2 separate regions of the Homo sapiens genome follow, and region 2 is linked to region 1. Evidence: fine-mapped expression QTL. A gene starts in region 1. The other region holds a variant in brackets. All regions are shown on one strand. Distances are between the middles of the regions.

Region 1 (5,372 bases):
AGACCAGCCTGGCCAACATGGAGAAACCCCATCTCTACTAAAAATACAAAATTAGCCAGGCGTGGTGGCACTTGCCTGTCATCCCAGCTGCTCAGGAGGCTGGGGCAGGAGATTCACTTGAACCCAGGAGGCAGAAGTTGCGGCGAGCCGATATCGCGCCATTGCACTCCAGCCTGGGCAACAAAAGCAAAGCTCCGTCTCAAAAAAAAAAAAAAATCACAAATTGGATTTATCAGAATTAAAAATTTTTGTTTACCAAGGCAGTTAAGAAAAAAAAAAAAGGAGACGGGGTGCAGTGGCTCACGCCTGTAATCCCAGCACTTTGGGAGGCTAAGGCAGGGGGATTGCTTGAGGCCAGGAGTTTGAGACCAGCCTGGGCAACATAGGGAGACCTCTGTCTCTATTGTTTAAATTTTTTTTTCTAAAAAGAGACACAAAGGTAAGCCACAGACTAAGAGAAAATATTCCCAATACATGTATCTGACAAAGGACTTATATAAAGAATTGTAACTCCTACAAATCAATAAAAAAGAGAAATAAAATTTAAACTGGGCAAAATATTAGAACAGACACTTCAACCAAAGTTATACAACGGTCTATAAAAACATGAAAAGGCACACTGAGCACATGGGTCATGGGTGGTGTTTTCCAATTAGAACACCTTGCTGAGTTCCTCTAGCAAGTAGCAATGACCACAGTGATAAAAATAACAGCTCCCGGCCATTCGCGGTGGTTCACGCCTGTAATCCCAGCACTTGGGGAGGCCGAGGCAGGTGGATCACCTGAGGTCAGAAGTTCGAGACCAGCCTGGCCAACATGGTGAAACCCCATCTCTACTACAAATGCAAAAAATTAGCCAGGCTACTTGGGAGGCTGAAGCAGGAGAACTGCTTGAACCCGGGAGGCGGAGGTTGCAGTGAGCCGAGATTATGCCACTGCACTTCAGCCTGGGAGACAGAGCGAGACGATCTCAAAAAAAACAAAAACAAAAACAAAAAAAAAACACCCTCTCCCCTCAGCTCAACAGCTGTGTTTGCACAACCTGGACTGGGCTTCCCAGCCTGGAAAGCAGAGTCAGGGAGAACCGTGAGATAGGCCAGGAAAGGGGCTAAAGCCAGATTCCTCAAGGCCTCCTGAGCCGTGGTTTCATGTGTAATGCAACAAAGTTTAATACGGGAGAACAGAAGGATATTGTCATAGCTACTTTTTTTCCCCTAGGCAAATTAACACAGGATTTTTTTTTCTCTGAGGCAGGTCCTTGCTCTGTCACCCAGGCTGGAATGCAGTAGTGCAATCACAGCTCACTGCAGCCTCGACCTCCTGGGCTCAAGTGATCCTCCCACCTCAGTCTCCCCAGTAGCTGGGACCAAAAGCGCATGTGCCAACATGCCCTGCAATTGTTTTAAGTTTTTTGCAGAAACGGGGTCTCACTATGTTGCCAAGACTGATCTCAAACTCCTGGCCTCAAGAGATCCTCTGGCCTCAGCCTCCCCAAGTGCTGGGGTTACAGGCGTCAGCCACAGCATCCGGCCTAAGCTACCTTTTTTTTTTTTTTTTTTTTAATAAGATGATGTCTCGCTCTGTCGCCCAGGCTGGAGTGCAGTGGCGCGATCTCTGCTCACTGCAACCTCTGCCTCTTGGGTTCAAACGATTCTCTTGCCTCAGCCTCCCCAGAGTAACTGGGATTACAGGCGTGCACCACCACACCCGGCTAATTTTTGTATTTTTTGTAGAGACAAGGTTTCAACATGCTGACCAAGCTGGTCTAGAACTCCTGGACTCAAGTGATCCACCTGCCTCGGCCTCCCAAGAGCTGAGATTACAGGCGGGAGCCACCTTGCCTGGCTAAGCTACATTTTATAAAAGATCCTCTGTGATGAACAAATGAGAAAGCAGCAAAACAGGATGGGGGTGGGGAGAAGACAGGGAGGCGTTCAGGTGAGAGAGGAAGACGGCCAGGATTGGGACTTACAGGGTGGGAATGGCAAGGAGGCAAATGGTTCAGTTATGGAGCTAACGCACCAGTGACTGTGTGGCTGGGCGTGGGCAGGAAAGGAGAAGAAGCGAATCTCGGGTTTCTGCCTCCTCCCCTTCGCGGTGGAATGCCTGGGAGGACCAGAGGGTGGGGTGTGGAGGTTGCAGGAGCTCAGCCTGGGGCCGGGGAGCTTTGGGTGTTATGAATCAAGTCTAAGCGCTCGGGTCTCATCGGAGCGATAGGGCTGGAGACACAGGTGTGGAAAGTGTCTATGAGGGATAACTAAGGTCACGATCGCGGACGGGGTCGGCCAGGAAGAAACCAGCTTCAAGAGGATACGCAACCGGGTCCTGACAAACCTGCAAGTGTAAGGAGCGAGGAGAGAAGAGGAGGCCGAGCCGGAAGAAGCTGAAGAACAGCCCCCGAATAGCCGAGGGCACGGGCAGCCTCCCCGGTCTGTCCCAGCAGCCGCGACGCTGGGTCTCACAGCCCTGGGGCGGCCGCAGAATTAGAAGGTTTGACAGCCCACGACCCAGGGACGGAGGGGCGGCGGGGGACACGGGCGCACTCACCACAGGGGCGTCCTCCACTAGGATGCTGCATCCACTACGCCGCGCCGGTAGCCCAGACTTTTACAAACTTCCCGAGCGGAAGTTGTTATCCGAAAGCTTCCGGCCCCTCTAGGAGCCCACGTCTCGGTGGTGCGCGCTGGCCTTCCAGGCCGTCCAGGCCGCCCGCCTCGCCCCGCACCGCTTGTGGTTCCGCCGCAGCCGGCAGGCCCCGCCCCGGTCACAGCCAAGCGCCACGACGCCCGGCTGATTTTTTTGTAATTTTAGTAGAGACGGGGGTTTCATCATGTTGGTCAGGCTGGTTTTGAACTCCTGACCTCAGGTGATCCGCCTGACTTGGCCTCCCAAAGTGCTGGGGTTACAGGCGTGAACCACCGATCCCGGCCCTCATAACCTAAAGTCGGCCTAAAGGTTTATCCTACAAAGTGAACTGTAACCTAACTGGAGGTGTGAACAGACTGTCACTTGCTCTCCTGCCAGTCACCCAGTTCCAGCCAATCAAGGGTGTAGGGTCCAGCCCTGCGGGGCTAAGCGGGTGTTGTCCCCGTGTGCGGAGATGAGAGATTGTAATAAATAAAGACACAAGACAAAGAGATAAAGAGAAAACAGCTGGGCCCGGGCGACCACTACCATCAAGACGCAGAGACCGGTAGTGGCCCCAAACGGCTGGGCGCGCTGATATTTATTGCATACAAGACAAGGGGCCAGGGTAAGGAGGGTGAATCTTCTAAGTGATTGACAAGGTGAAGCAAGTCACATGATTACAGGACAGGGGGCCCTTCCCTCTTAGGTAGCGGAAGCAGAGAGAGAAGGCAGCATAAGTTAGCATTAATCAAAGACTTTAAGACTTTCACTATTTCTTCTACCGCTATCGACTACGAACTTCAAAGAGGAACCAGGAGTACAGGAGGAACACGAAAGTGGACAAGGAGCGTGAACATTGAAGCACCACAGGGAGGGGTTTAGGCCTCCGGATGACTGCGGCCAGGCCTGGGTAATATCCAACCTCCCACAAGAAGCTGGTGGAGCAGAGTGTTCCCTGACTCCTCCAAGGAAAGGAGACTCCCTTTCGCAGTCTACTAAGCAACGGGTGACTTCCCAGACACTGGCGTTAGGGCTTGACCAAGGAGCCCTCAAGCAGCCCTGATGTGGGAGTGACAGAAGGCTCACCTCTTGCCTTCTAGGTCACTTCTCACCATGTCCCTTCAGCACCCGACCCTATATCCGCCGGTTATTCCTAGGTTATATTAGTAATGCAACAAAGAGTAATGGTAAAAGCTAATGATTAATAATGTTTATAATAATGATTGATAATTGTTCATGGTCATCTCTATATCTAATTTGTATTATGACTATTCTTATTCTAACTATTTTCTTTATTATACTGAAACAGTTTGTGCCTTCAGTCTCTTGCCTAGGCACCTATGTAATACTCCACCCACACAAGGGTGGCCAACTGTTCAAACCTAGACACGCCTTTCTATAGATTCCAGGTCTTAGGTAATCACTTAACTTATTCAACCAATTGCCAATCAGAAAATCTTTGAATCCACCTATGACCTGAAAGCATCCAAAGTATAGCCAAGAAATATATTTAAAAGTAAAATAGGCCGGGCACGGTGGCTCCCGCCTGTAATCTCAGCACTTTGGGAGGCCGAGGCGGGTGGATCACGAGGTCAGGAGATCGAGACCATCCTGGCTAACATGGTGAAACCCGTCTCTACTAAAAATACAACAAATTAGCCGGGCATGGTGGCGGGCGCCTGTAGTCCCAGCTACTCGGGAGGCTGAGGCAGGAGAACGGTGTGAAACCCAGAGGCGGAGCTTGCAGTGAGCCGAGATCGCGCCACTCCATTCCAGCCTGGGCGACAGAGTGAGACTCCGTCTCAAAAAAAAAAAAAAAAAAAGAGTAAAATATTTTGATTTCCTTTATCTGTCATGTGACGTTATGCTAGAGTCAGGTTGGAAACTAAGCCAATTATATAGGGTTAAATAAAACCTATCTGATGACATTTTATGGTTTGTAGGGCAGACTCCCCAGGCCCTTTAGATAAGAACTTGAGCAAGAGAGAAAAAGATCAGTTTAGTCCTCACTAGTAAAGGAGTGATAGCGACAGGAGGCAGGCAGCCAAATGCCCAGCCAAATGGGGGCAGGTCCCCAGTGAAACCTCCACCTCGACGCTGAAAACAGCTTAAAGCCTGAAAGCCAAGCTGCAAGTCGAATCCTCAGACCGGATTGAGAGCCTGTCTTCCTGTCTGGCGCACTTTCCTCTGATTGGTCCCACCCTTCACCTATTTTACATATACCTACCCTTTTCTAATTGGCTTTCTACACTGTCATGCCCACCTTTCAGTGGTGCCTTTGCTTTAACCTTTTTTGCATTACTCACAAACCAATCAGCACGCCCTCCCCATTCTGAGTCCATAACATGGGGAACTTTCCTGCCTTCATGTAGGGGGACCACGCCATGTCCCCTCTCCACTGAAAGCTGCCCCGTCACCCAGTGAAATTCCCCGCCTTGCTCACTCTTCGATTGTCAGAGCCTCCTCATTCTTCTTGGCCGTGGACAAGCATTCGGGAACTCGGGGGAGTTGACGGGCTGTCTCCTGCAGCAGGTAGTGTGTCAAGCGAGGCCCTGGCGGGGCGTCGCTGGCCGGAGGTCCCTGGCTTGCAGAATGACTGAGAACAACATCCTATGTCAATAGGAATGTCTTCAAAATTGTTAGTTACATATAATTTAATACTTGTTGATTTGCTGTTACTTATGTTTTTGGTTTTGAGCCTCTGGAATCGGGGCTGGACAGGTGGCCATGGTGAGGTCTGGGGA
Region 2 (5,372 bases), 48 kb after region 1:
CCAGATGCAGTGGCTCACGCCTGTAATCCCAACACTCTGGGAGGCCTAGGCAGGCACATCACCTGAGGTCAGGAGTTCGAGACCAGCCTGACCAACATGGAGAAACCCCCGTCTCTACTAAAAATACAAAATTAGCTGGGCATGGTGGCACATGCTTGTAATCCCAGCTACTTGGGAGGCGGAGACGGGAGAATGACTGGAACCCAGGAGGCGGAGGTGGAGGCTGCAGTGAGCTGAGATCACGCCATTGCACTCCAGCCTGGGCAACAAGAGCGAAACTCCATCTCAAAAATAAATAAATAAAAATAAAAATAAATTAAAAAGGGGGTGGGCCGGACATGGTGGCTCATGCCTGTAATCCCAGCACTTTGGGAGGCCGAGGCAGGCAGATCACCTGAGGTCAGGAGTTCGAGACCAGCCTGGCCAACATGGTAAAACCCCATCTCTACTAAAAATACAAAATTAGCCAGGTGTGGTGGCACACGCCTGTAATCCCAGCTTCTCGAGAGGCTGAGGCAGGAGAATCTCTTGAACCTGGGCGGCAGAGGGTGGAATGAGCTGAGATCGCGCCATTGCACTCCAGCCTGGGCAACAAGAGCAAACCTCTATCTCAAAAAAAAGAAGTGGGAGAACGGTGGGGTGGAGATGTTGGTTTCTTGTTTTGGAACTCAGTTGATACCTTCTGATTTTAAATTTTAAAATGGCTGTTATACTACCTGGAAACAAGCTGTTTATTTTTTTTTATTTGATATATATATATATTTTTTGAGACAGAGTCTCACTCTGTCGCCCAGGCTGGAGTGCAGTGACACAATTTCGGCTCACTGCAATCTCCACCTCCCTGCAATCTCTGTCTCGTGGGTTCAAGCGATTCTCCTGCCTCAGCCTCCCAAGTAGCTGGGATTATGGGCGCCTGCCACCACGCCCGGCTAATTTTTTTGCATTTTTAGTACAGATGGGGTTTCACTTTGTTACCCAGGCTGGTCTCAAACTCCTGACCTCAGGTGATCCACCCACCTCGGCCTCCCAAAGTGCTGGGATTGGATTACAAGTGTGAGCCACCACGGCCGGCCAGAAACAGGGTGTTTCTGTTTACAAGAACATATCTTAAAACCATATGTGTGCCTCTTAATAATTTTCATAATTTTTTTAACTTTTGAGAAAGTTTTTTTTTTTTTTTTAAGACGGAATCTCACTCTGTCGCCCAGGCTGGAGTGCAATGGCATGGTCTCCACTCACTGCAACCTCCACCTCCCAGGTTCAAGTGATTCTCCTGCCTCAGCCTCCTGACTAGCTGGGATTACAGGGGCGTGCCACCACACCTGGCTAACTTTTGTACTTTTAGTAGAGATGGGGTTTCACCATGTTGGTCAGGCTGGTCTCGAACTCTTGACCTCATGATCTGCCCGCCTCTAGAGAAAGTTTTTAAAATTGCAAATATCTTGCTTTGAAGAAACAGTTATCTCAAAAAGGAAATAGCTATCTTCAGTTTTTGCTTAACTTTTTCTTGTATGAATTTAAGTAAAATTAAATCAATACATTTTCATTTAAAGAAACTGACATGAAATGCAAAAAAAAGGAAGCCACCTGACTTGTGGCTCCACACAACAAACTGACTAGCATGGACCCATCTCCTGTTGTAACACAGAATTTGCTGGATAAAACATCACCTGAGGCCAGGCGCGGTGGCTCACGCCTGTAATCCCAGCAGTTTGGGAAGCCGAGGTGGGCAGATCACAAGGTCAGGAGTTCAAGACCAGCCTGACCAATATGGTGAAACCTCGTCTCTACTAAAAATACAAAAATTAGCCGGACGTGGTGCCGTGTGCCTGTAGTCCCAGCAACTCAGGAGGCTAAGGCAGAAGAATCACTTGAATCCGGGAGGCAGGGGGTGCAGTGAGCCGAGATCATGCCACTGCACTCCAGCCTGGGCGACAGAGCAAGACTCCGTCTCAAAAATAAATAAATAAATAAATAAATAAATATCACTTGAAATTGTCTCAACAGCAGATGTTGTGTATCATCAGCAGCCACAGCAGCTCTGGGGTGTCTAGGGGTGTCCCATCTGGCATTAGAAGCCCCCAGCTCTTGCACCCACACTGGTAAGGGGAAATTCCAGCCTCAAGCTCCCAGCCAGAGTCACTGTGTGTTGCTTACAGCCTGAAGAAATTAACAGGATACACCAAGCTTCACCCTCAGGAAACAGGAAAAGCAGAACCAGAGGGCAACCGAGTGAGACGTGGACTAGAGCTCCACTAACATCTGGACCTCCTTGCCCCGCGCCACACCAAGGGGCCTACTGGGCGCCACAGGCTAGGCAGGGAGCGCTTCTGTTCCTAGTGCTCCCCACGATGCCCCGGAAGTTCAGGGAGGTAAGAAGCGTAAGGTCAGAGAACTGGAGCCAGCTGTCAACTGCCCCCGCCCCACCCAGGCCATTTGGCTTCTGCTACCGGCATGCTGCTCAGGGCTCTGCCCAAGGACAACGACGAGCCCCCTGTGTCCTCTCCTGGGTCATCTTCCATGACCCTGAGGCAGCGAAGACAAGCTCGGCAGCTCCCTGAGCTGCTTCACACCAACTACCTATGAGTCTGAGGCCAGCATCCAGGCGCTGCCCAGACCCTGAGAGTCCCTGGACCATGACGTAGCCTGTGTGTGAAGGGAGCAAGACAGCCTTGACAGAAGCACAGAGAACGCCACTGGGATTCTTAAAGACGCGAAGGGAAAAGGGTACCTTCAAGAAAAAGCAGGACAGCGTAGCCACACCACCTCTCCCCATCTGGGAATTCTCCAGGTCCAAGTCTTGTACTTAATTCTAATTCTGCTCATCATGTTTCCCTCCCCACCCCTATCCCCAACAGCACAGAAGATGCTGGCGCTGCATCTCCTCCAGCACCGAGAGGCCTCGAGGCCCCAGGGAGCGGAGGCAGGGTTCAGGCACAGCC[G/A]CGGGAACGCCCACACCCAGTCCTGCCACACCGTAAAACATGTCTGCGGCATCAACCTCACGCAGGCCTGGCGGACCTGAAGACTGCGACACGGACACTCAAGCCCGCGGCTCTCCGGCCTGGGCTCAGGGCGGGGGGAAGGAGAGGGAACCAGGGGTACCCACACGGCGCTCCTCAGGGACAAGACCCCAGGCTCGGGCCCGAGGCGGGCTCGCTGGAGAGACGCCGCAGCCTCGCGGGGGCGGCCGTGGCTGCGTCCGGGAGACTGACTAGCCAAGGCCCCGCTCCTGGACGCCCTAGCGGGGCGGGCAGCGGCCTGCGGACCCCGCCCGGCCCTCTCGGCGGACTGTGCCCTGGCAAGGCGGCCGGGCTCCGGAGCCAGCCGGGGCTGCGGCTAAGGCGTTGCCCGCCCCCGTCCGGAACGCGCCACTCACCCGGCGCGGGCGGGGAGAGGACGGCGCGAGCCCGACCCTGCAGCCGCTGACTGGACCCCGCCGGCGCGGGCCCCACAGATCAGCCGACAAAGCCTGCACCGCCGCCAGCCCGCCGCGACCGGAAGTCGCGAGAGGCCCCGCCTGGGAAACTTCCTGCGCCGTTCTAGGAGCGCCAGGGATCGGCTCCCCTCTCAGTGGTGCGGACTTCCGGGCCCGGGGACTAAGACCCCCGGAGGGGCCAGGGGTGTCCGGCAGGAGCGGCGTTGCTACGCGGTTGGGAGGGTTGCGGGCCGGGAAGCGCGGGCTCGGAAACTCGGGTCTGGAGCTCGCGGCGAGGTCCGACCGCAGCCCAAGACCAGCTTCTCAGGAGGCGAGGATCCAGGGGAAGTAAATACCGTGAGGGCCAAACTTCACCTCTCTGCGCCCCAGAGAAGTGGGGAAGCGGCGCGCTGTGGAGTTTTTTGGTTTTCGGGTTTTGGTTTTTTTAAGACAGGGTCTCGCTCTGTCGCCCAGGCTGCAGTGCAGTGGCGCGATCTCGGCTCACTGCAGCCCCGACCTCCCGGGCTCAGGTGGTCCTCCCATCTCGGCCTCCCAAAGTGCTGGGACCAGAGGCGCGCGCCACCGCGCCGGCTCATTGATTCTTGGTAGACATTACTCATTGCTAGAATGAGTCACAGTCCGAAATAATCGAAATAATTACATTCCCCTGCCCCCCCCCCCCACCAAAAAAACATTATATTCGTATTTTGGGTTTTCTTTTTCCATTTTTCTGCTAGCACTGAGGAAACTTGTTTACCTAAATTGTTAGATAGGATTGGGAGGAATTTTGTTTTAGCAATGACGCTCAATTTATTTTTATTTTTATTTTTTGAGATGGACTCTCGCTCTGTCACCAGGCTGGAGTGCTGGAATGCAGTGGCGTGATCTCTGCTCACTGCAACCTATGGCTCCCTGATTCAAGCGATTCTCCTGCCTCGGCCTCTGGAGTAGCTGGGATTACAGGCATGCGCCACCACGCACAGCTAATTTTTGTATTTTTAGTAGAGACAGAGTTTCACCTTGTTGGCCAGGATGGTCTTGATCTCCTGACCTCGTGATCCACCCGCCTTGGCCTCCCAAAGTGCTGGGATTACAGGCGTGAACCGCTGTTCCCAGCCGACGCTCAATTTCTTTAGCTCTTTCTGACTTATATGCAAAAAACATAACAGCAGTTTATCACCAAGTGTACTTAATGACCTGTCAGTTGACCACTTGAATAGGTCCTTTTTAAATTTTGACAGAAGCAAACAAAGAATTAGAAGTAACCTAAAGTGCAAAACTACATGAAGTCTTTCCCAGCCAATAAATTCACCTACTTTCTTAAAATCAACTGCAGAGTTTTGAATTGTCCCTTTGATGAGGAGGACAGCCCAGGTACCAAGGCCAGGTACCAGGGTGAATAAAGGAAGAGAAGCAACGTGGGAGAAGGAGCTGTGGCCAAGGGGGACACGCTAGGCGCGTGCCCTCATCCAAGGACCTTCTACAGGAATTCCAGGGCAGAATCCATGTGGAACTCCTGCTGTGATTCTCCAGGGGCTCCCCGGCTCTTGGAAAGGCTTCTGTGTTCCAGGGGTGTGTGTGAAAGCCCTACATTGAGCGACCCCACCTCTCATCCAGGCCCGGAGACCTTGGCTGCTGCAACCCTATTGCCAGCTTACCATGGGACCCAGCTCTTAAGGCGAGAAGGGCTTGAGGCCTCTTCCCCACAGGGCTTACAGACCTTTCAGCCTCCCTGTCCGCAGGCCCAAAGAGCTTGAGAACACCGCCTGAGCAGGTTGTCACAGATCAAAATCTGCCTTGTACACCTGACGCCTGCCACTTCAACCCCACCAACAGCTAACACATGGCTGCAGCTTGGCACTTAATACTTTTTTTTTTTTTTTTTTTTTGAGACAGAGTCTCTCTCTGTCACCCAGGCTGGAGTGCAGTGGCGCGATCTCGGCTCACTGCAAGCTCT

Alleles and levels. Positions count from the first base shown, and alleles are read on the strand shown. Sizes are in standard deviations (SD) of each study's normalised expression.
For the expression in prefrontal cortex of the gene that starts at base 2,611 in region 1, allele A in region 2 goes with a higher level than allele G (large effect, 1.0 SD a copy in BrainSeq).

Evidence for each region.
Region 2: its variant is fine-mapped to the expression of ZNF707 in prefrontal cortex (BrainSeq, PIP 0.95).

Annotation. Positions count from the first base shown.
Region 1 is chr8:143,681,718-143,687,089 of GRCh38, reverse strand. ZNF707 (zinc finger protein 707) reads right to left here and starts at 2,611. Exons shown (of 6, transcript NM_001100598.2): 1 at 2,548-2,611. RefSeq lists a silencer at 4,811-5,036.
Region 2 is chr8:143,634,150-143,639,521 of GRCh38, reverse strand. It overlaps ZNF623 (zinc finger protein 623), which reads right to left and starts at 3,503. Exons shown (of 2, transcript NM_001261843.2): 1 at 3,377-3,503. The variant G/A (reference allele first, on the strand shown) is at 2,943.